Linked DNA regions of Homo sapiens: regions 1, 2, 3 and 5 are each linked to region 4. The links come from fine-mapping of genetic effects on gene expression. A gene starts in region 4. Each other region holds a variant in brackets. All regions are shown on one strand. Distances are between the middles of the regions.

The links. PIP is the estimated chance that this variant, and not a neighbour inherited with it, causes the effect. A credible set is the group of variants that fine-mapping cannot tell apart.
Region 1: its variant is the best candidate, but not a certain one, in a credible set for the expression of SYNJ2 in monocytes (Quach 2016, PIP 0.56).
Region 2: its variant is the best candidate, but not a certain one, in a credible set for the expression of SYNJ2 in whole blood (INTERVAL, PIP 0.56).
Region 3: its variant is the best candidate, but not a certain one, in a credible set for the expression of SYNJ2 in whole blood (INTERVAL, PIP 0.53).
Region 5: its variant is the best candidate, but not a certain one, in a credible set for the expression of SYNJ2 in whole blood (TOPMed, PIP 0.57).

The regions. Positions count from the first base shown.
Region 1 is chr6:158,045,586-158,049,757 of GRCh38, reverse strand. All of the region lies in intron 5 of SYNJ2 (synaptojanin 2), which reads right to left. Among named protein-coding and RNA genes, the nearest start is that of SYNJ2-IT1, 47 kb to the right of the region's middle. RefSeq lists an enhancer at 1-292. The variant G/A (reference allele first, on the strand shown) is at 2,434.
Region 2 is chr6:158,059,333-158,063,504 of GRCh38, reverse strand. SYNJ2 (synaptojanin 2) reads right to left here. Exons shown (of 27, transcript NM_003898.4): 7 at 4,152-4,172; 8 at 1,341-1,513. Among named protein-coding and RNA genes, the nearest start is that of SYNJ2-IT1, 60 kb to the right of the region's middle. The variant T/C (reference allele first, on the strand shown) is at 2,543.
Region 3 is chr6:158,076,868-158,081,039 of GRCh38, reverse strand. SYNJ2 (synaptojanin 2) reads right to left here. Exons shown (of 27, transcript NM_003898.4): 18 at 2,759-2,876. Among named protein-coding and RNA genes, the nearest start is that of SYNJ2-IT1, 78 kb to the right of the region's middle. The variant G/A (reference allele first, on the strand shown) is at 2,488.
Region 4 is chr6:157,980,109-157,984,280 of GRCh38, reverse strand. It overlaps SYNJ2 (synaptojanin 2), which reads right to left and starts at 2,418. Exons shown (of 27, transcript NM_003898.4): 1 at 2,193-2,418. The coding sequence starts at 2,319. RefSeq lists enhancers at 2,137-2,652, 2,853-2,902, 2,923-3,112, 2,653-3,168, 3,133-3,182 and a silencer at 2,153-2,732.
Region 5 is chr6:158,189,008-158,193,179 of GRCh38, reverse strand. GTF2H5 (general transcription factor IIH subunit 5) reads right to left here. Exons shown (of 3, transcript NM_207118.3): 3 at 1-1,203. The coding sequence ends at 1,023. Among named protein-coding and RNA genes, the nearest start is that of GTF2H5, 23 kb to the right of the region's middle. The variant TTAATC/C (reference allele first, on the strand shown) is at 2,457.

The sequences.
Region 1 (4,172 bases), 65 kb before region 4:
AGCCGTGTCCCCACCTGCAGAGCTGCATGCATACCAGCAGAGGCATGTCCATACCTGCAGAGCCTCAGGGACACCATGACCAGGCTCAGCTTGCCACAGCTGCTTCCCTGGGCTCAGGGCCTCAGGCTGGGTCCCTCCATCCCCTAAACAAGTTGTATTATTGGACTTGTCTAACCGCCTCTCCCTGAGTCATGACCCTAAGCTGCTTCTTTTAGGCAGGTGGAAAGGCAACACAGTGAGGCCTTGGGCAAAAGTGGAGGGGAGCTGGGCCTCATGTTCTCTCCGGAGCTCACCCTTCCTCCGTCACCCCGTGCATCCCTTTTGTCTGGGTTCCTTGGGCCTCATATCCTTCCTCCCCTCTGTCCTGCTCCAACACTGACCAGCATCCACCTTCTCTGGTGTCACCTAGTCCTGAGGTCACTGGGTGTCAGAAGCCACAGGCACGAGCTGCAGCTGAGGGCAGGGTCCACCACTGTCACTGCATTTTGTAGCTTCCCTTCTCCTCCACCCCGTCCTCCTCCCCTCTGGGCAAAGGGCCAGCTACTCTTATCTGGCCCCTAAAGTCATTAGTTCAATCCTATAGACCAGAGACTGAGGTTAGGTAGACAGCCATGAGGATAGTCGGGGTCTGGAGAACTCCTGGCTGTGGAAGTCACAGCAGAGTCTCGATCAGCACTCAAGAGGCCCAAGGATCGCAGACAGCACCTCCACACCTCTCCCCTGCACCCCACCACTCCTACCAGACTTAAGGTTACCCAAAAATCTCAGCTCAACGGCCTCCCATCTGGTGTCTTTCCCCTCCAAACTAACACTGCCTAGACTTCTGTCTAATTGTGTCTCTACCTCTTGCAGCCCTTTAGCAGTGTCCAGTGTGTGCTGGAGCCAGCTCCTGCAGGCTTGCAAGCCGACGGTGCACCCAGCTGGTCCCAACTCTGAGCTCAGTGATGTGGAGCCGTAGGTTGAAAGTGGCCACGATGGGAGAATTTACACCACAGCAATGGACAAATGCTACAAACCAAAGCTCCCTGCACCCAGTCTGACCCCAATAAAACTGGCTTGCCAGCACAGCACCGAGTGGTTCCCATACTTTTCTGCATGCTGGAGTCACCCATGGGTCTTCAAAAAGGACAGCTGCCTGGCTCCCGGCCCCAGATATTGTGACTTAATGTGTATGGTATCAACCTGGGTATCAGGATTTTTCAAGCTCCCCAGCAGAGTCTTCTGTGCAGCAAGGTTGGGGAGTACTGCTTGAGTAGCTGCTGGTATGGGATGCAAACTCCTCAGTGTAGCATCCACAGGCCCTTGACCCAGCCCTGCTCACCTCTCCTATCTCTCCTCCCATTCCCTTCATGCCCAGGACTTCAAGAAGCTACCCAGTGATGCTCCCTGATCACTGTGAACCCAAGGGTTACAACACCTGCACCCATTGTTCCCTCTGCAAGGGCTGCCTTCCTTGCCTGAGTGCTTCTTCCTCACCCCTCCCCAGTCTGGACCCTTGGGCAGCCCACCCCACACCCTCAGCCTGGGAGAGCTGCCCCCGGGGCCTCTCCCTTCCTCCAACACGGCTCTGTCCACACAACACTGCCCTGTCCTGCCCCCTGCTCCCTGAAGGTAGGGACTGTATCTGATCCCTGGTGCCCCCTACACCTGGCAGACGCTCAGTGAATGTTTGGGATGAATAAATGGCTTCATCTGGGGTTACTGATTTACGATGAGTCTATGAGGGATGAGAGATAAGACTGACCAGGAAGCTGTCTTCATGTTACTACATCTCACGGTGTCCCTGTTCCCACAAAGACAGGAGGAAACTCTCATTCAGTGCTCACGGCACCAAGAGCCATGCTTCTCCGGATGCCACCATTGGTTTTATCTCCTGGGTGTTATCATTTGTTTCTATTAGTATCAATAGCAGCTGCCATTTTGAGTACTTTTTAGATTCTAGATACTGTGTGTTTTTTTTTTTTTTTTTTTTTTTTTTTTTTTGACAGAGTCGCACTCTGTTGACCAGGCTAGAGTGTGGTGGCACAATCTTGGCTCACTGCAAACTCCGCCTCCCAGGTTCAAGTGATTCTCCTGCCTCAGCCTCCTGAATAACTGGGATTACAGGAACCTGACACCATGCCTAGCTAATTTTTGCATTTTTAGTGGGGATGGGATTTCACCATGTTGGCCAGGCTTGTCTTAAACTCCTGACCTCAAGTGATCTGTCCACCTTGGCCTCCCAAATTGCTGGAATTACAGGCATGAGCCCCCATGCCCAGCCAAATTCTTATATTACGCTCTTTAATCCTCTCTAGAACCCTATAAGGTAGATATTGTTAGCCCCATTTTACAGAAAAGTAAACTAAGGCTTGGCACAGATAAGAGCCTCTCAAACACACATGGTTACAAAGCAGGGGAGCCAGAGTTTGAATTTGAGCCCAGGTCTGCGTC[G/A]CTTCAAAGCTCGTGCTCTGAGTCACTGTCATAAACTGGCTGTGACTGTGGTTCTTTCTGTGGTGGCTGCGGGGAAGCTTGGAACAAGCGTCAGGTTCCTTCCCACGCACACAAGACCCACGGCATGCATCGTGGGCACCAATTCGACTCTTGCCCTTCATCCAGACCTCTTCACTTATTTTTGAAACTGTTATACTACAAGCCATCTCATGTCCTTTTTGGAAAAAAGGAAGGTACAAACACACAAGCCCATCCAGCGCCACGACTCCACAAACTTGGCGAATGGTTTCTGGCAGGAAAGAGGTGAAGGCAGGGCAAGAGGGGTCTGCTCTACTCGGCATCCTCCTCCGTTTGGTTCAGTTGCAGGAAACTTCAAAAGACAGACTGAACTCACCTTGGCAAGGCACGTGTCTATACAGCATATGGTGGGGGGAAGCTTCTACAATGACCAGGGGAGCAACGTTGTCAACCACAGACACAGATCATAAATAGATTCTCGAACTAGCTAGACCAGGGAGCAATTTGCTTTAAGGGTAAAATTTCAATGTGGCTATTTATAAACTGCACAGCCCATTTACACGTAAAAATGAAATTTATTAAAGGTACACGGCTGCTAGAAATGGAGTCAGGAAGTACTGAAGGTACCATTACCCAGGAAAACATGCAGACAAATCCTCATCCACCACCCTCTGCTCAACCCTGCCCCATCCTGCTGGGCTCCTGGGTTTCCAACGGCAGCTGTCAAGGAGGGACAGCATTGCAGCTTAATACGCAAGCTACTCACCCCAAAATCTTTGCACTTTTCATCTAACCTAAGTGAAGAAGGAAGAGAAAAAGTTCAAAGTGGAGAAAAATAACTAGAAGCAGCCTTAGGCTTGATAGTGACAGTTGAAGCCGGTGACGGTAGACCACCACTTCCCGCTGCCCTCCCGGCCCCCTGTGAAGATGACTTCATCTCTCTTTGATGATGAGTGGTGTTTAGAGGCTAAACACAGGTATTAGGCCCAAAGGTTAGCAAATCCTTAATAAGATTAAGGAACACTAAAGCCTTCTGAAGCTTGTTTTGAAGAAACCATGGAGGCCGGGCGCGATGGCTCACGCCTGTAATCCTAGCACTTTGGGAGGCCGAAGCGGGCAGATCACTTGAGGTCAGAAGTTCAAAACCAGCCTGGTCAACGTGATGAAACCCTGTCTCTACTAAAAATACAAAAAAAATTAGCCAGGCATGGTGGTGGGTGCCTGTAACCCCAGCTACTTGTGAGGCTGAGGCAGGAGAATCTCTTGAACCCAGGAAGTGGAGGTTGCAGTGAGCCGAGGTCGTGCCATTGCACTCCAGCCTGGGTGACAGAGCAAGACTTCGTCTCAAAAACAAAACAAAACAAGAAACAAAAAGAAGAAACCATGGAGGCTTTGGTGCAGCACAAATGTTAGGAATTTAAGAGGGTGAAACAGCTGCCAAAAAGCTGAGACCTCGTGGTCCACTGCTCCTGGCCCCTGACAGACCAAGGCACAGTCATCCCATGGCGGGTCAGGCTACATCTGAGGCAGCACGAAGGTCAAGGTAAGACCAAAATGAAATCCAAGAGGGGAACGACAAAAAGGAGTGTCATTTTTTAGATGAGGGAGATGAGAACATTGAGAGTCTTAGAAACAGGAGGGAAGGTGGCCAAAGGAGTTGGGAGGCCTTAGAGAAGACAAGAAGAAGAAGAGGGAACCAGAAGACTCCCTCCAAGGACTGA
Region 2 (4,172 bases), 79 kb before region 4:
GTATTTTTAGTACAGACGGTGTTTCACCACATTGGCCAGGCTAGTCTCGAACTCCTGACCTTGTGATCCGCCCACCTCAGCCTTCCAAAGTGCTGGGATTACAGGTGTGAGGAAACATGTTCTAAGAGGGAACCCCTCACCTCCTCATCAATAGCCCCCCAGAAACCCCAGTGTCCATCCCAGTGGATCCCCAGCACTTCTGGAAAGGCAGGCAGACCCCAGGACACACACTCAGTAGCCTGCACAGCTGGGTCGTTTTACGTTTAGCTGGTCCTTGTTATTTATAGCAATTATGTTCTATAAAGTTGTAGGAACACTGAATTGGACATGAACACAGAACCATCGCTCCTAGGGGAAATATAGGGTTAGGTTCCTGCAAACCTCTGGTCACATTTTTATCAACTGATCAATATACAACCTTGTTTTATGTATGTTTCCATATAAAGACACCTTATTGAATATATATATTTGCTTAATTAACACTGAACCATGGCCGACAGCACTGTAGCTCATATAGGGACAAAGCTTATCTTAACGTGCATTTTCTCCATAAAGCACATCACCACCTTCTTGTGCTCAGAAGTACTAGACAGCTCTTCGGCACACTGCTTGGGGCCATTCTAAACCATGAGATCCCCGAACAAAGGGGGGCCCCTAACAAAGACCCCACAAATGTGAAAAACATGGTACTAAATCTTAAAAAGGAAACTTGTTTAAATACGAGGCCAGAGTATTTAAATACTCTGTCCAGCAAAAATGCTTTGCATACTGATTTTGGGGTTACAAATCAGTTTTAAGGAATAGGTAAATAAGCCAATATGGAATCTGCAAATAATGAGGACCCCCTGCATGTGACCTGAGGGAACTGGACTTCGTTTTTCTCCTCTGCTCTGAACAGGGAAGTCCATACCCTGGTCTCCTCTAGCAATCTAAGTCTATGCCAGCCATCCCACCGCGACTGTGGCCCTCACTCTCACAGGCCTGCGTCACAGCGTGGAGCTCCATGTTTTAATGCAGTCCCCTTTATTAGTTCATTTCTTTTGCCAGAAAACCATGACTCAACATCTCCTTGAGAAATTCAAAAGCCTGTCTCCTACTGTGGGAAGGGAGATGAGAAGCTGGAACCCAAGATTCCCGGCGTCGCCAAGCTTATGACCCAGGAAACCACAAGGGTAACTGAGTGGGGAGGGAAGGAAGCTGCCCCTCATAGGGCACATGTCCTAGACTGCACGGCCCCTCTGCCGCCTCACCCAGCAGAAGGCACAGCACGCAGCGAGCCTCACCGTGGACTGACGCTTCCCCCCAGCAGAAGACGCGGCACAGTGCGCAGCGAGCCTCACCGTGGACTGACGTTCTCCCCCTTTGTGAACACATCGAAGTCTTCCCAGTGCAGCTTTAACTGTGGCCTCAAGAGGGTCTCCAATTTCTCTAGCTTCCCACCTTTGGCAAACTGATGGAAGTCAAAATTGATCATAGGCGTGTCGCCCGCGTGGCAAGAAGCCCAGAGCAGCTTCTGAAAAGAGGAGGGGAGGGCGGTGAGGGGAGCAGAGGGAAGGGAGGACGAGGAGGGCAAGCTCCTTGCAGAGCTTGACCCGTGCGGCTAACCAAGGTGACTCGCCGCAGGACGTGCTTTAGCTGGAAGCTCACAGTGGACCAGGCAGTTGACCCCAAAAGGGAAGCACAGGACAAAGGCCCTGGGGGGACAAAACCCACAAAGAGCGTCTTGCCTGCGAAAGGGCAGAAGGTCCCCCTTGAGCAAAAGAAGCCAGAGCAGGTGTGGCTTCCTGGAGAGATCATACTCCTGCAGGGCTCTCTGGAGGGCACAGGTGAGGAAGGACTGCTCTGTTCTTCAGGTGGCCCAGGTGCCCCAGGCCCTCAGAGATAGCAGTGCTGTGGCAGGCTGCAGAGCTCATAATCCAGCTCCCCGTTGCCCTAGTAACCGGCCCCATCCTGCCGCGCACCAGCCTCTGGTGGTTATGCTCTGAAGAGACCAAGTCTCCAGCTGAAGTGGCCCAGGTGGGTCCCACATCCCGATGCTACTTCAGGATGGTCAGGGAGCCAGAGTGAAGGTGGGGAGAGATGGGAAGCAGGTCAAGGGGCTGCTGATGGCACCAGGATGCCCTTAAGAGCCCTCCCTTCCATATGAGGCTTCCCTGGCCTGGCAGCTCCCTGGCTTTCTCCCCAGAGAGCCCCGTGATGAAGGACAAACTGTCCGCCTACCCAGGCCACCCGGCTTCCAGGCCTCTCACCCTGCACTCATGCCCTTGTGGCTTCAGGTCAGGCCAGTCCAGCCTCTGCCCAGCCAGAGGTCCTAGTGACTTGGAAGGACTAGAAGGACTTGGGGGTCATCTGATCTGACTCAACGTGACTGCCTGTGATAGGTCTGAGTGTAAATCAATGCAGTGCTGCCATCATCAAGCAAGTCTTGCTGTGAGCAAGAAGCTGGAGGAGCCCAACAGTGCCTGGTGGCTCAGTGCCATGCATTCCACAGCCAGTGCTTCATCCAGCAGGACTGATGGCCATTGGGCCCTGGGCAGGCTGC[T/C]GGGCCACCAACCTTGGTCTGGGCCAAGCTGAGGTGGCTGAGGGCCACCCCAGGCAGGGCCATGACCCAGGTCTTCAGCTAGAGTGCCCCTCCCTACCTGGCCAGGAGCCCACCCTTCTCCGCATGAGGTGGCTGCCATCTCCCGCCCTCACCAGTGCCGGGCACTTCACCCACTGATGGGAGGGGCCACAACTCAAGGCATAGGGGAAAAGGACTTGGGGTTCTTATTATTATTCTTATTTTTTAGCTTTTTCCCTTCTTCCTTCAAATTAGCAGCCAGCATCACTGCCAAGATGGGTGGGAAGGGAGACACTTCTGGAGCTCGTTGCTAATAGCAACAAACCAAACAGGAAAAGCAGGTCTGGCCAAATAAAATTGGCAACCAGGAAGTGCCTGCTCTGAGCATGAGCATGTGGCATTTCTAAGCAGAGGGAAAGGCTCAGAGATCGCCCTAACCCCCAGTGAGGCGACTTCGAGCTCTCTCTGTAAGGGATATCTTTGAGCTTTAAACAACGAGAGAGTTTTTCTCTATTAGGCAGGGGACATGGAGGCTGGTAAAGGAACCAGGAGCCCCCTTGGCTCATTCTGGAACGTCTTGCGCCTGGGGAGCAGGGGGCGGGGGCTGGAGGCCTGGGATCCATGCACAGGGATGGAACCTGGCCAGGTGGGCGGAGTCTCTTGCTCCCATGGCTCTGTGACCCTGCCCAGGATCTGTCCAGGATCGCCAGGAAAAGCCCCCCAAGGAAGTCTGAAGGAGCCCACAGGAGCCCAGCAGCAGCAGGTCCAGGAGCTGCCATGAAAGCCCGAGGAAGAGGGGGAAATTTGAAGGCCAGCCGGCAAGCAGGGGAAAGCCACCGAAGTTCCTGCTCCTGAGCCCTGAGGCCGGGTGCCCTGTGGGGCTGGGGGAACTCACCCAGGACCAGCCAGGGCAGAAAGGGAGGCCTGCCTGCTCCTGGGCTGGACTGAGAGGGGTACCTTGAGAGGTCAGAAGCCCTCAAAGCCCCATGGGGAGGGAGGGTAAGGGACACATGGCTGGGGACAGGAGATGCTCTGTTTTGACTTTGAGCAAATTCTCCCAACCATCAGCTCACAGAAATTACACTCACTAGGCCGGGCGCGGTGGCTCACGCCTGCAATCCCAGCACTTTGGGAGGCCGAGGCGGGTGGATCACCTGAGGTCAGGAGTTCTTGACCAACCTGAACAACATGGTGAAACCCCGTCTCTACTAAAAATACAAAAATTAGCCAGGCGTGGTGGCAAGTGCCTGTAATCCCAGCTACTTGGGAGGCTGAGGGAGGAGAATCGCTTGTACCTGGGAGGCAGAGGTTGCAGTGAGCTGAGATTGCACCACTGCACTCCAGCCTGAGCGACAAGAGCCAAACTCTGTCTTAAAAAAAAAAAAAAAGAAAAGAAATTACACTCACTGTATCAGGGCCCGAGTCACTGAGCACTGCCGTGTTCACTGGTCGGAATGCTGGGGAAGCCTCAGGAAACGAAGGAGGGCTGGGCTGTCAGCTCCAGTCCCTGCAGGAGCCACCTCCAGGCTCAACGCTCCACCATGGCCACCTGCCGCCCAGCCCAGCTGTGGAGAGGACAGCCTGGCCTTACCTTGAAGGCTCTGTTGAGCAC
Region 3 (4,172 bases), 97 kb before region 4:
CCAGTTAGCCTGGGACAGATGTCCACATCTCCAGCCCCCAGTCCCCAGCTGCTGTCCCCCAGGGCTCTTTGTAAACAGTCAACACCAACAACCTGCGAATGTGGCCACCAGCAGGTGGATTTGCAGGCTAGCTGCCCTGCTCTGGCGTTTTAGTCTTCATCTTTCCTTAACCTTAGTATCACCTTGGCATTTTTATCTAAAGATGATTTGAGGGGGAAAATAAAGTGTGGCACCTTAAAGATGTATCCCAGTACTTGGAAAATAACCAGCCATCAGCAAAGATTTTTGACATGGTAATCCTCAGTACCACCAAGGAGGTGGGGAAGCAGACATCTGCACTCTGCCAGGGGTGCAAGCTTTTCAGAGGGTTACTTGGCACTTTACATAGAGTTCCAAAATTGTTCATCTCTTTTCACCTAGTAATCTCACTTCTCGGACTTTATTCTAAGGAAATGACCAGGGATTCAGACAAAGATTTAATGCATGAGGTTGATCATTTACAGCATTGTTGATGGGAGGGAAAAAAAAAAAGGGAAATGCTCGTTTTTTTTTTTTTTTTTATTTTGAGTCAGAGTCTCCCTCTGTTGTCCAGGCTGGAGTGCAGTGGCGCGATCTCAGCCCACTGCAACCTCCGCCTCCCGGGCTCAAGTGATTCTCCTGCCTCAGCTTCCCAAGTAGCTGGGATTACAGGCGCATGCCACCATGACCAGCTAATTTTTGTATTTTTGGTAGAGATGGGGTTTTGCTGTGTTGGCTAGGCTGGTCTTGAACTCCTGACTTTAGGTGATCCGCCTGCCTCAGCCTCCCAAAGTGCTGGGATAAAGGCGTGAGCCACTGCGCCAGGCCAAAATGCTCTGTTTCTTAATGGGGAAACAGTTATGATACCTTCATATAATACCCTACGCAATCATTAGGAATAATGTAAAAATCAATGATGTAAACAGGAAAACAGTCCAGCAGGAAATAATGCAATCCTTATAGTAATTCTGACACAGGGATGGTTATTACTCTATAAATTTCCAGAAAATCCTATATTACGAAAATTACACAGCCTGATTGAAAATAGCTCGACTCTGGCCTGACTCCTGCCACTACTTTTTTTCTTTCATAGCACACATGTTTGTTTATTGTCTGTTTGTCCTGTCCAGAAAATTCCATGATAACATGGTCTCATCTGTTTTGTTCACTGCTTTTCTCCAGGCCAGCAACAGGGCCTGGCATGTAAGGGCCCCTCAAGAAATATTGGTTAAATTAAGGTTTCAAAATACATTGAGCTAGCAAACCTTGATGTCACATATCTGAAGATTCCTCAAGATTCACTTCTAGGTATGTATTTGCAACAACAGGTATCTAAAGAATTTAGAATTATCTAAAGAGTCTGGGCATGGTGGCTGTAATCCCAGTACTTTGGGAGGCTGAGGCGGGCACATCACTGGAGGCCAGGAGTTGGAGACCAGCCTGGCTAACATGGCAAAACCGTTTCTACTAAAAATACAAAAATCAGCCGGGCATGGTGATGCACGCCTGTAATCCCAGCTACTTGGGAGGCTGAGACATGAAAATCACTTATACCCTGGGGGTGGAGGTTGCAATGAGCCAAGATTGTGCCACTGCACTCCAGCCTGGAGGACTCTGTCTCAAAAAAAAAAAAAAAAGGTTTTTTCGTTGACCAACTGTTCTTACCTTCTTTTTCTTAATTTCTTTCCTTGTAAAAGTTGAAACTGACATGAGAGTTTAGGCAGCAGCCTTGGGAAGATCAAACTCTTCCTTCTTCACACCCTCAAATGCCATCCTCTCCTCTGTCTTTAAAGACATTCTGCAGGGTGAGTCTTCCTCTGCAGCAATCCCAGGGCACAGGTGCTGGTGCCCACGGTGCTCCCTCTGCTGCCTCCACTCTATCCTCAATGCATGATGCACAGAGCATTTAAAAAGCCCTGCATCCTAGGGCCAGGTGCGGTGGCTCACGCCTGTAATCCCAACACTTTGAGAGGCCAAGGTGGGTGGATCACCTGAGGTCAGGAGTTTGGGACCAGCCTGGCCAACATGGTGAAACCCCGTCTCTACTAAAAACACAAAAATTAGCCAGGCATGGTGGTGTGCACCTGTAATCCCAGCTACTTGGGAGGCTGAGGCAGGAGAATTGCTTGAATCTGGGAAGCGGAGGTTGCAGTGAGCTGAGATCACACCACTGTACTCCATCCAGCCTGGGCAATAGAGCAAGACTCTCTCTCAAAAAAAAAAAAAAAAAAAAGGTTGTGCATCCCAGATTTAAAAACCCTATGGTGTTTGTAATCATAAAATCCTGGAGAAAATATTCATCAAGAGGTGAATGGATAAGTTGTAAGTTCCATGGATATATTTAGTGGGATACTAGACAGCAGTTACAAATGAATGCACCAGAGCTATAACATCAACACGACTGTATCTCAAAAATAGTAACAAAAAAGCAAGTTGCACAACGACATCATTTAAGAAAATATAAAAGCC[G/A]CAAAATACGTAGGTTGCATCTTTGAAATTTTCATCAATGATGTCATTTATGATATGGAGCAATGACAAAATGCTAAGATTAATTAGTTCTTGGTGGTGGGTCCACAGATATTTGTTCCATCATTCTTTGTTCTTTGGTGTATTGTATGCACACAAAATGCACCCCCATGCGCACACACATCCTTATGGGGACAGCATGCATTTTCCTGCGGAGAGGGAGACGCTGCCTTGCCCAGCACAGGAGAAAACGCCATGGAAGTCAGGACCTCACCTGTGATCAGACGCTTGTAGCTCCGCACGACCATAATACTGCAGGGCACCAGGAGACCAGGTGTGTCTGACTTTGGTGTCAACATCTAGATCACTGTCTAGAAGGTTGAGTTCTCCAGCTACTCGCAGGGGTTCCATTCGAGAGACCCATATAGAATCGAGTCAATATCCAAGAATGCGATCATGACACTTCCACAATAGAGGTCTGCGCCACGAACCACCCCACGTCCCAGACTCATCCTCCTTACTCCTCCACCTTGAAGCCAGGCTTCGGATGCTTTGGGGCCTTTGGTTAAAAACATTCCTCGCATATAATTATTCAAAACAGTCATGACCATGCCTGCAGTCCTCGCCAGCATGCCCACTGTAGGCTTGAGACACAGTGTTGCTGCCGGGTTTCCAGGACCCAGGAATCCCAGAAGGTTGGCAGCAATTGGTATGGTAAGAGCTGCAGGAGCTGAGAACACTCGGACTCATTCTAGGCCCCACCTCTCAGAGCGCTGGGGCCACACAGGCGTTCACAAACTCATCTAGAGGAAAATTTGTATTTTCTTTTCACAGATGCAATTTCCTGGCTATGCTCTCCCAAAATGTGTAATTAGGTTTTTTTTTTTTTTTTTTTTTTTTTTTTTATGTACTAGTTACAGATATTCTAACTTTAAATAAACTTCACTTCCTAGCTGGGCATCAACAGTTGTTCAAAACATACTTGACAACTAATGATTTTTAAAAACTAACTTATTTTTACTGTGTCTTGCTCGTGTCCAATTTGGAATTAGGGCTTTAAGCAGGTAAAAGTGTAGCTGAACAAAATAGGCTGGATAAAGAACATGAGGGGGAGCATGGGGGGCAGGGAGGGAGGCAACCTCATGCTCCCCGCTTTCCCCACCCAGAAAAAAGAGGTGGGGGTGTGGGGGGGAGCTGTGATGCAGGGGCAGCCAGGAGCAGACCTATTTGCAGGTCACTGTCTCTAGAAAGAGACCAGAGGAGGCCAGGCGCAGTGGCTTATGCCTGTAATCCCAGCACTTTGGGAGGCCGAGGTGGGCAGATCACCTGAGGTTGGGAGTTCAAGACCAGCCTGACCAACATGGAGAAACCCCGTCTCTACTAAAAATACAAAATTAGCTGGGCATGGTGGTGCATGCCTGTAATCCCAGCACTCAGGAGGCTGAGGCAGGAGAATGGCTTGAACCCAGGAGGTGGAGGTTGTGGTGAGCCAAGATCACGCCATTGCACTCCAGCCTAGGCAACAAGAGTGAAACTCTGTCTCAAAAAAAAAAAAGAAAAGAAAAGGGAAAAAAAGAGGCCAGAAGCAGAGGCTCCCTGAAAGCACAACTTCCAAAGCTTAGGGGTTAAGGTCTGGGATGACTTTTGTGTCATCTGGGGTTATGAAGAAACTGATTTATGTAGCAGCG
Region 4 (4,172 bases):
TTTTAAACAACTTTCTAGTAACATAAGGCTCTCTCCTACAAACATTCTCTGGACCAGCAAAGCCACCAAATGCTACAGCTGCTTTTTAAAAATAGTTTCATTTTACTTAAACAAAACAGACTTTAAAAAATTAAGTTTTCAGGCCAGACGCAGTAAGTAGTTCATGCCTGTAATCCCAACGCTTTGGGAGACCAAGGCGGAAAGATCACCTGAGCCCAGGAGTTCGAGAACAGCATGGGCAACATAGTAAGACCCCATTTAAAGAAAAGAAAAGAAAGAGAAAAAATTAGCCAGGCATGGTGGCATGTGCCTATAGTCCCAGCTACTCAGGAGGCTGAGGCAGGAGGATCGCTTGAGCCTGGGAAGTTGAGGCTGCAGTGGGCTGTGACTGTGCCACTGCATGCCAGCCTAGGCAACAGAAGAAGCCTCTGTTTCAAAAAAAAAAAAAATTTTTTTTTAAAGTTTTCTACTGAAAAATGAATGCTAGGTTAAATGACAAATGTGGACTGCACATGAGTTGAAGACGAGCCAATTCCTTTCTTACATTCTCTGTTCTAAAATCTGGTATACTGTAATCACCACCGTGATGTAAATCTCAGCCCAAACTTCAGCTCCTAATGGAAAATATGCACTACATTACTGTCATTAATCATTTTTAAATCTTCACTTTTGAAAAAATAAAATCTCTTTTTTCTAAGCTGCTTCAAAGAATTCTTGAATGTGTATGAACTTGGCTTAATGTTGCCGTAATCCAACTGAAGGACATCTTAATCTATTTGATGAAACAGTAGTTTTGTACCATGAAATTACTCTTTCGCTTCCGATAAATGTGGTATGAAGTAGACATCTAAAATGGAATGGAAATTTCTGTGGTTTTCTTTCAAGGCCACACCAAATAACCAAACTTAGACTCTTCAGGACAGCACAAATTAGAATAATCTGAAAATAACTTAATCTACAATTCACTGCCTACTTTTGATGCTGAGACTACTGGAGACATTGTTTCAGTAATCAAGTGACTGAGAACAAGCTGGATAAATGCATGTTAATGAAATGATTAGGGAATCAGAAATAGGAGAGATAGTCCTTCCAAGACATACATCCGAACGGGAGTCGATGCATACAAATGTGAAAAGAAGGCTAGAGGCATCTACAAAGCAGCCTGCTGCATTTGCCGACCACCTCAAGTACGAGTGACCCCGGGCTGCACCTTGTTTAGCTAGGAATACCGGCAAGCTGTTACAGCTGGACGCCTAGTGGTGGGAGCTTACTCTCGGGTGTCCACATTTAGAAGTCTAACAATCAGACCTGGTTTCACGTGCTTTGGTGCTACCCAGGTTTTCCTTATAATGGTTAGCACAAAACAAGGGACCCAGGTTAGCGATACCAGGAAGCCACGCATTGAATGACATTACAGAAACAGCCACATAAAAGTCAGGTGGATGGTGTCACCTTGGCAAGCAACTTAGCCTCTTTAGGCCTCAGTTTGCTCATCTGCAAAATGGGGATAATAATAGCTTTTTAGTAGAATTGTGAGAATTAAGTGAGATCACGTACTAAAGCCCATAGCACAATGCCAGTTTCAAGGCTTCTGAAGTCCATAGGTGAAATTCGCTGGCTTGGCAGGATCTAAGACAGCATAAAGGTCATGGTATATTTGTTTACAAGTTCTATAAATTGCAGCACCGATGCTTCTCGACCAAGTATTTACGTGGGACAAAGCTGCCATCAGCGGTTTCTCCAGAGCCTATGTTTTGGGGCTTTTGTCCCCATCCCCTCCAGGAGTGGAGCCGCCAACACAAACCAAAGGGCAATCACTGGTTTCATCAACAGGTGCAAAAGAAAAGGCGCCAGGCACAGGGTCAGGCCGGCTAAGTCAACACCCCGGGATCCTCATGAATACGCAAAGCGCCCCAGCCGGCTATCCAGCAACCATATCCTCTGGCGGCGCGGGCCGGAGATCCCCGTGGAGGGGCGGCCGGCCTCCGTGCGCCACCGGCCCAGCCAGAGTGCTCTCTCGAGTCCCCAGCCCCACTTCATTCAAACAGCCACCCCTCTGCGCGCGACCCCTACGCCCCGGCAGTCCCAGCGCCGCCCGATCCCCTCGGGAAGGGGGGGTACCCGTCTTCCCGAGGCTGGGCGAATGCGGGCGCCCTCTCCTCCGGGCGTCGCTGCCCCCGGCCCGGACTCACCCAGCGTGGCCACCGTGCCGGCCTCGAACAGCAGGCAGTCGTCGCGGCCGCGCGCCTCCAGCAGCACGCTACAGTCCCCCTCGGCCCCCAGGCGCCCCAGCAGCCGCAGCCCTTTGCTCAGGGCCATGAGGGTCGGGCCCACTGCGGGCGGGGGCCGGGGCCACGTCCTCCCGAGGGCGCGCTGCCCGCGACAGCTCCCCGCGCGCCCGCAACTTGCCAGAGTTTCACTTTGCGCCGCCGCTCCCGCCGCGCCAGGCTCCTCCCCGGCCTCCTCCCCTTCCTCCTCCTCCCCACTCGCGCCTCCCCAGCCTGGGGCAGGTGAGGGCGCGCCGCCGCCTCCCGCCCGGCCCCGCGCTCCCCCCAGCGGCCAGGCAGCTGCGCGAGGCCGCGCCCCGGGGCTGAGGCTCCCCGCAGGCGGGCGTGGAGCGGAAGAGCCTCCCGGATGCCACGCATTCCTCGCTGCGGAGGAGGATGCCCCGCGCGGGGCGACCCCGGGAGCCTGGCTGCGATGCCGGCCGCCCGCAGCCTTATATGGGCAGCCCGGCCCGGGAGTCCGCCAGGCTGGACCCGCTGACTGTTCCCGCCGGGGGCGCTGCGCCTCCCTGTGTGGTCGGCTCCTGCGACCCTGGACGAGTCCTTTCGACCCTGCGTGCCTCGGTCTCCCTGCGGGGAAGCGGGGTCATAACTGCGCCTACTTCGGCGCGGAGGCCTGAGTTAATTCGCGGAGGCGCTTAGCGGGTGCGGAGCGCGTGGAGCGGGCTGGAGAAAGGTTACCTTTCACTAGCGTTCTATCCCGGAGGCTGTTGCGGTCACCGACCCCGCCAGGGAGAGGTGTTGGGGGTCAACGGTGCGTTGTCGCGAAGAGACCTGGAGCCGTGATCCCCAGACCACGACCCCCACTTACCACGTGACCCTGACTTCTCTGCGCTCCACCTTCCTCTCCTGTCAGATGGTGACAGCGCCTCTCCCACCGGCTCTGGACACCGGCACGTGTCCGCGCGTGTACGCTGGAGTGTGTGGCCCGGCCTTCTGGCGCGGGGTTCTAGCGCCCAGGCTTGGCCTGTCAGAGCTGCAGGGGAGGTGGGGTGGGTATGGGTGTTTAGGGCTGAGTTGGAGTCACTCTTTGGGGTGGTTTGGCGGCTTAATTCCCTTCGCTTGTGATGGGTACGTGAGGATGGCCCGAGAAGCCTCCATCAGCTGTTTCCATCCTGCCCGCAAACGAACTCAGTTCCTCTCTCACCCCATTCTGCTGTACTGGGCCAAGCTGTTTGTCTCTGGGACTTGTCCTAGAAAGGGCAGAGCCCCCAGAGCCAAGCAGAACACTGCCATGCCCCTGCAGACATTCAGTAATGACCAGACAAGCCATCCTCAGGGGACAACCTCTCAGGTGATGGTTGGGTAATAAATTTGAACAACCCCAGCAGAGATTATCTTGACCCTTAGCCCCTTTCCTTGCCCACAAACTCTGCCCAGGTCAAGCATGATGTGCTCAATATCCCAGGCATGATGCTCATCAGCTGTCCGAGCAGCTTCTTTCTGTGTAGATGGAAACATTACTACCTCATGAAAACAGTGTGCCCATTCAGTGAGGCAGATCAGCCTTTGGCCCACTTTTTGACCTGAAACTCACTTCTTCCAGGAAGCTTTCCTGGAATGCTGAGGTCCCAGATAATAGTGCTTATATAACACCCAGATTTACAGACTTCAGTTCTCACCTACTCATATGTTGCTTGAGAAGTGTTTTTATGTTTTCTCTTAGCCCTGTTTTGCAAATTGAGTGGTAAGGCCTTAGGGAGGGGACCCAGTCTTCCATTTATCTCTCTCTCCTCTTTCCTAACTAGCATCATATAGTCTAAAGTCCTGCACAGTGGCATGCCATACCTATTTTAGAAATTTTCCTGCAGTCAGGACCAGCAGTTGAGCCTCACAGCTTATAGAATCCAAGTCACCATCAACTGTAAAATGAACCACTATTTTATG
Region 5 (4,172 bases), 210 kb before region 4:
CAACAGGCAGATTTTTGTATTTTTTTTTTTGTAGAGACAGGGTTTCGACTCCTGGACTCAAGCGATCTGCCTGCCTCAGCCTCCCAAAGTGCTGGGATTACAGGTGTGAGCCACTAAGCCCAGGCCGCAATGTATTTTAATCTAATATGTCCTTTCCTGTTGGGCTGACTTTGCATATGGCTGTTCCTATTTTTCTTTTTTAGATAAGTTTGATAAGTATTCTCATAGGGAATAAGGTACAAGTAGAATTTTTTTTTTTTTTTTTTTTTTTTTTGAGGCAGGGTCTCTCTGTTGTCCAGGCCAGAGTGCAATGGTGTTTTTGTAGCAACCTCGGACTCCTGGGCTCAAGCAATCCTCCCACCTCAGCCTCCCTAAGCTGTTTTCTTAATAAAAAAGAATACAGATGGGAAAATGTGACCAACAAAGTTTGAACAAGGAAAAACTAAACAAAGCAGCATGTGCCTTTCCCACTGGTTGTTTCTAACCCTCTTAAAAACAATATTCTGTTTTCAGGGAAATGCAAACTGTAGTTTACATTAGTTTTACATTGTCTTCCTCAATAGAGCTGACTGGTATGCAGGTAGGATTTGTGAGACGTACATAATGTCTAAGTCCCCACCTTGGCATATTCAAACAGCAAATCTATGACGTTTCTAACTGAAACCAAACAATCACATCCACGCAGCAAAAATGCACAGATCACAGGGATGAGCAAAATAAATACCTATGTTACACTGACATGGTATTAAAAAGGCAGGAAAAGCATTGACATTTGTATTTTAATAAAGGATAATAAAAGCCAAATTACAGCCAACTGTTAAAGCTTTTTTTTTTTTTAAATTCTATGGTAACAAAATCAGTTCAGGGGCTTTTTTTCTGAACAAATGATCATGATCCCTCAGTCTTTCCCGTGGCATGCTCCTAAAACAACCCTCTATGTCTAATCAGTCACCTAAGATATTGAGTGGCAAGTCTTTCACAGTTGCTGCTTATAATTCCTAAATGGTCCATATTGAGTATTTTCATTTCTGGGTAAGGGAAAAAGCATTTTGGTCCATTAATTCACCCACTCGCTCCTGGAGGACATTAACCAATTCTGCTATTACAAAGACGTGAGTGTCATCAATGTCTTGAATGATGAACTTCTTCCCCAGGGCATTGGACTCATCCAAGTACAGCAGAAACTGCTTCATGGCAGGATCACTGTAAAGACAAACACATGATTGTAAGACAGCTTGTTGTCAAATCACATCACAGAGACTTGAGCAATTAAATGTGAACATGTAGAATTTTTAGAATGATTTTTAAAGTTCTGTTACTCAATCCCTCACTTCCTCTCTGCCTCAAGTGTTAACAATTTATAGACATGGCTTCATTTTAGAACTATTAGTGTAAGTTGGCCGGGTGCGATGGCTCACACCTGTGATCCCAGCACTTTGGGAGGCCGAGGTGGGTGGATCACCAGGTCAGGAGATCGAGACCATCCTGGCTAACACGGTGAAACCCCGTCTCTACTAAAAATACAAAAAATTAGCCGGGTGTGGTGGCGGGTGCCTGTAGTCCCAGCTACTTGGGAGGCTGAGGCAGGAGAATGGTGTGAACCTGGGAGGCAGAGCTTGCAGTGAGCGGAGATCGTGCCACTGCACTCCAGCCTGGGCGACAGAGCGAGACTCTGTCTCAAAAAAAAAAAAAAGAACTATTAGTGTAAGTTGAAGAGGCAGAGGCCAATGGCAAGATTTTTAAAGAATAATTTGTCACTAAGTGGAAAAAATAAAAGAATATTGAAAGCTTTGTAGTTAGTAGGGCCTAGAATCACAGCTTTCTTAACTGATTTAAACACTGAATTTCTTCCTTGTCTATGCCCATTACATCTAAGGAACCAGTAGGTGTTCAATGTTTTACCAGTGACAAATTAACTTACAAAACCAGTTAAACAGTCACTTTGGTCAGGCAGGGTGTATATCAAGAGTCATACCTGGATTCAACCCCAGCTTCATCACTTACTTGTGTGACCTTGAATAGAATAGGTACTTAATCTCCCAGAGCCTCTGTTCCCAACCTCAAAAGTGAGGCTACATAACAGAATTGTTTACGGAAATTAAAGGAGATAATGTCAAGGACAGTGCTTGGCTTGTAATAGGCATTCAAGGAAAGAGGTCCAAATTCAATTTTATTAACTTGTGGTTTTTGGTTTGGAAAGAATAGGATAGTCATAAGGGAAAAGAGGGATACAATTTCTTCTCGGGCAGTACAGATTTACAGCAAAATGTCTCTTTCATAAAAACCTTGAATCATGACAAAGGACACTCTTTAGATCTAATACACAATGTGTTTAGCAAAAAATGAATATAAAAATGTCAAGCTGCACCACAGATTTTTGCAATTCTTGAGAAAAAAATCTCATATAATCTTTTGGTGTCTTGAGAAATGTCAATATCAATTGTAAAGGTAACAAT[TTAATC/C]CAAAAGATGTCACTATAATTTACTGAAAACAAGAAAAATAAGATTTAAGTACAAGCACAGGTATTAACTGATGCTAACACGGGATTTACTTCTATCCCTAGATGAGTATGAGCCTCAGAACTGATTTGGGGGACTTTGGGTTTTACCAAGTGACATGATTTAACTTACAAACTGACTTAAATTTTAACTGTAAGGATCATATTGGCTGCTGGGTTGAGAAAAGACTGGGAGTGGCAGAGGCAAGGATGGAAGCAGGGGACCCATGAGGTGACATCCAGGCAAGAGATGATGATTTTGATGTAGGTGGTAATAGTGGAGGTGATGAGAAGTGGTTGAATTCTAGATATATACTGACATAAAACCAACATAATTTGCTAATACTGGACATGAGCTTTGAGAAAGAGGAACAAGAAAACTCCAAGATTTTTCATCTGAGCAAATGGAAGACTGGAGGAGATTTTTACTGAGATAAAGAGGAATGTGTAAGATCTGCAGGTAAGATCAAGTTTGGTTTTAGGGTGGGCATGGTGGCTCATGCTGTAATCCCAGCACTTCGAGAGGCCTAGGCTGGAGGACTGCTTGAGGTCAGGAGTTAGAGACTAGCCTGGACAGCACAGTGAGACCCTGACTCTACTAAAAAAAAAAAAGGTTTAGTTTTTGATGTTATATTTTGAGATGCCTACTGGCCCCTGAGTGAAGAAGCTGAGTAAGAAGTGACCACCGAGGTAGAAAGAAAACCCAAAGAGTCCTGAAAGCGATGTGAACAAAGGCTACTCAGGAAGTGGGAGTGATCAATTCTGTCAAAGGCTTATAGGGTATAGCAAGGGCTGAAAATTGATCCCTGGATTCAGAAAGTCACTGGACCTTGGCAATAGCAGTTTTGGTGGAGTCATAATAGGGAAAGCATGACTGGAGTGGGTTTCATATGGGAGGAAAGAAATTAGAGACAGTGAAGAGAACCAAGTCTTCTCTTTACTGAGAAATTTTGCTACAACGACCAGAAAGGTAGACTGGAAGCTAGGAAGAGGTGTGGGACTCTGAACAGATGGGAATATCAACAGACCATAGGTCTGGCGAAGTTGAAGAAATGATGGAGTGAGGTATGAGAGGGAGTGAACTGGAAAGAGGAGGTGGTGGTCAGAGTCAGATGCCTGAAATGAGACTGAAGAGCTGGCACGAGGGTAAGGAAGGATAGGTCTAGCTACAACTATGTGAATGAGTGGCTGTGATGAGGTGGAGGACAAGCTCAGTGGAAGAGGAGGCCAGGGAACTGGGAGAACAGGGTATCTAAAGGACTACCCACACGGATACTAACATCACTAAGGATTTGAGAGAAGAGCTACTGAAGATAGTTTTTTCAAGGGAAAACCTTCAGGACAGATTGGGGTGTCTGTAGATGATTATAAAGAGGAGGGTTGGTGGGTAGTCCACTCTGATGATCTGGGATTGATAACTGGGGGTTTCTATGGAAGAGGGAGGGAGAATTTCTGGAAGTGGCAATAATAAGCAAGGTACTGATCCTGTTTCCTGACCCAATGGTACAAGAGGGTGCCTTTGTAGAGGAAAAAAGGCACCACCTGATAAGGTGGTGGGAGAAGCAGTGAGCTCAGGACAAAGTCAGGTTTTGTCACAGCAAAAAAGGAAAAGGTGGGTGGGGGAAGGAAAAAGGAAAGTTCAGAGAAGAGGCTGAGGCTACAGGGCATCCTGCTG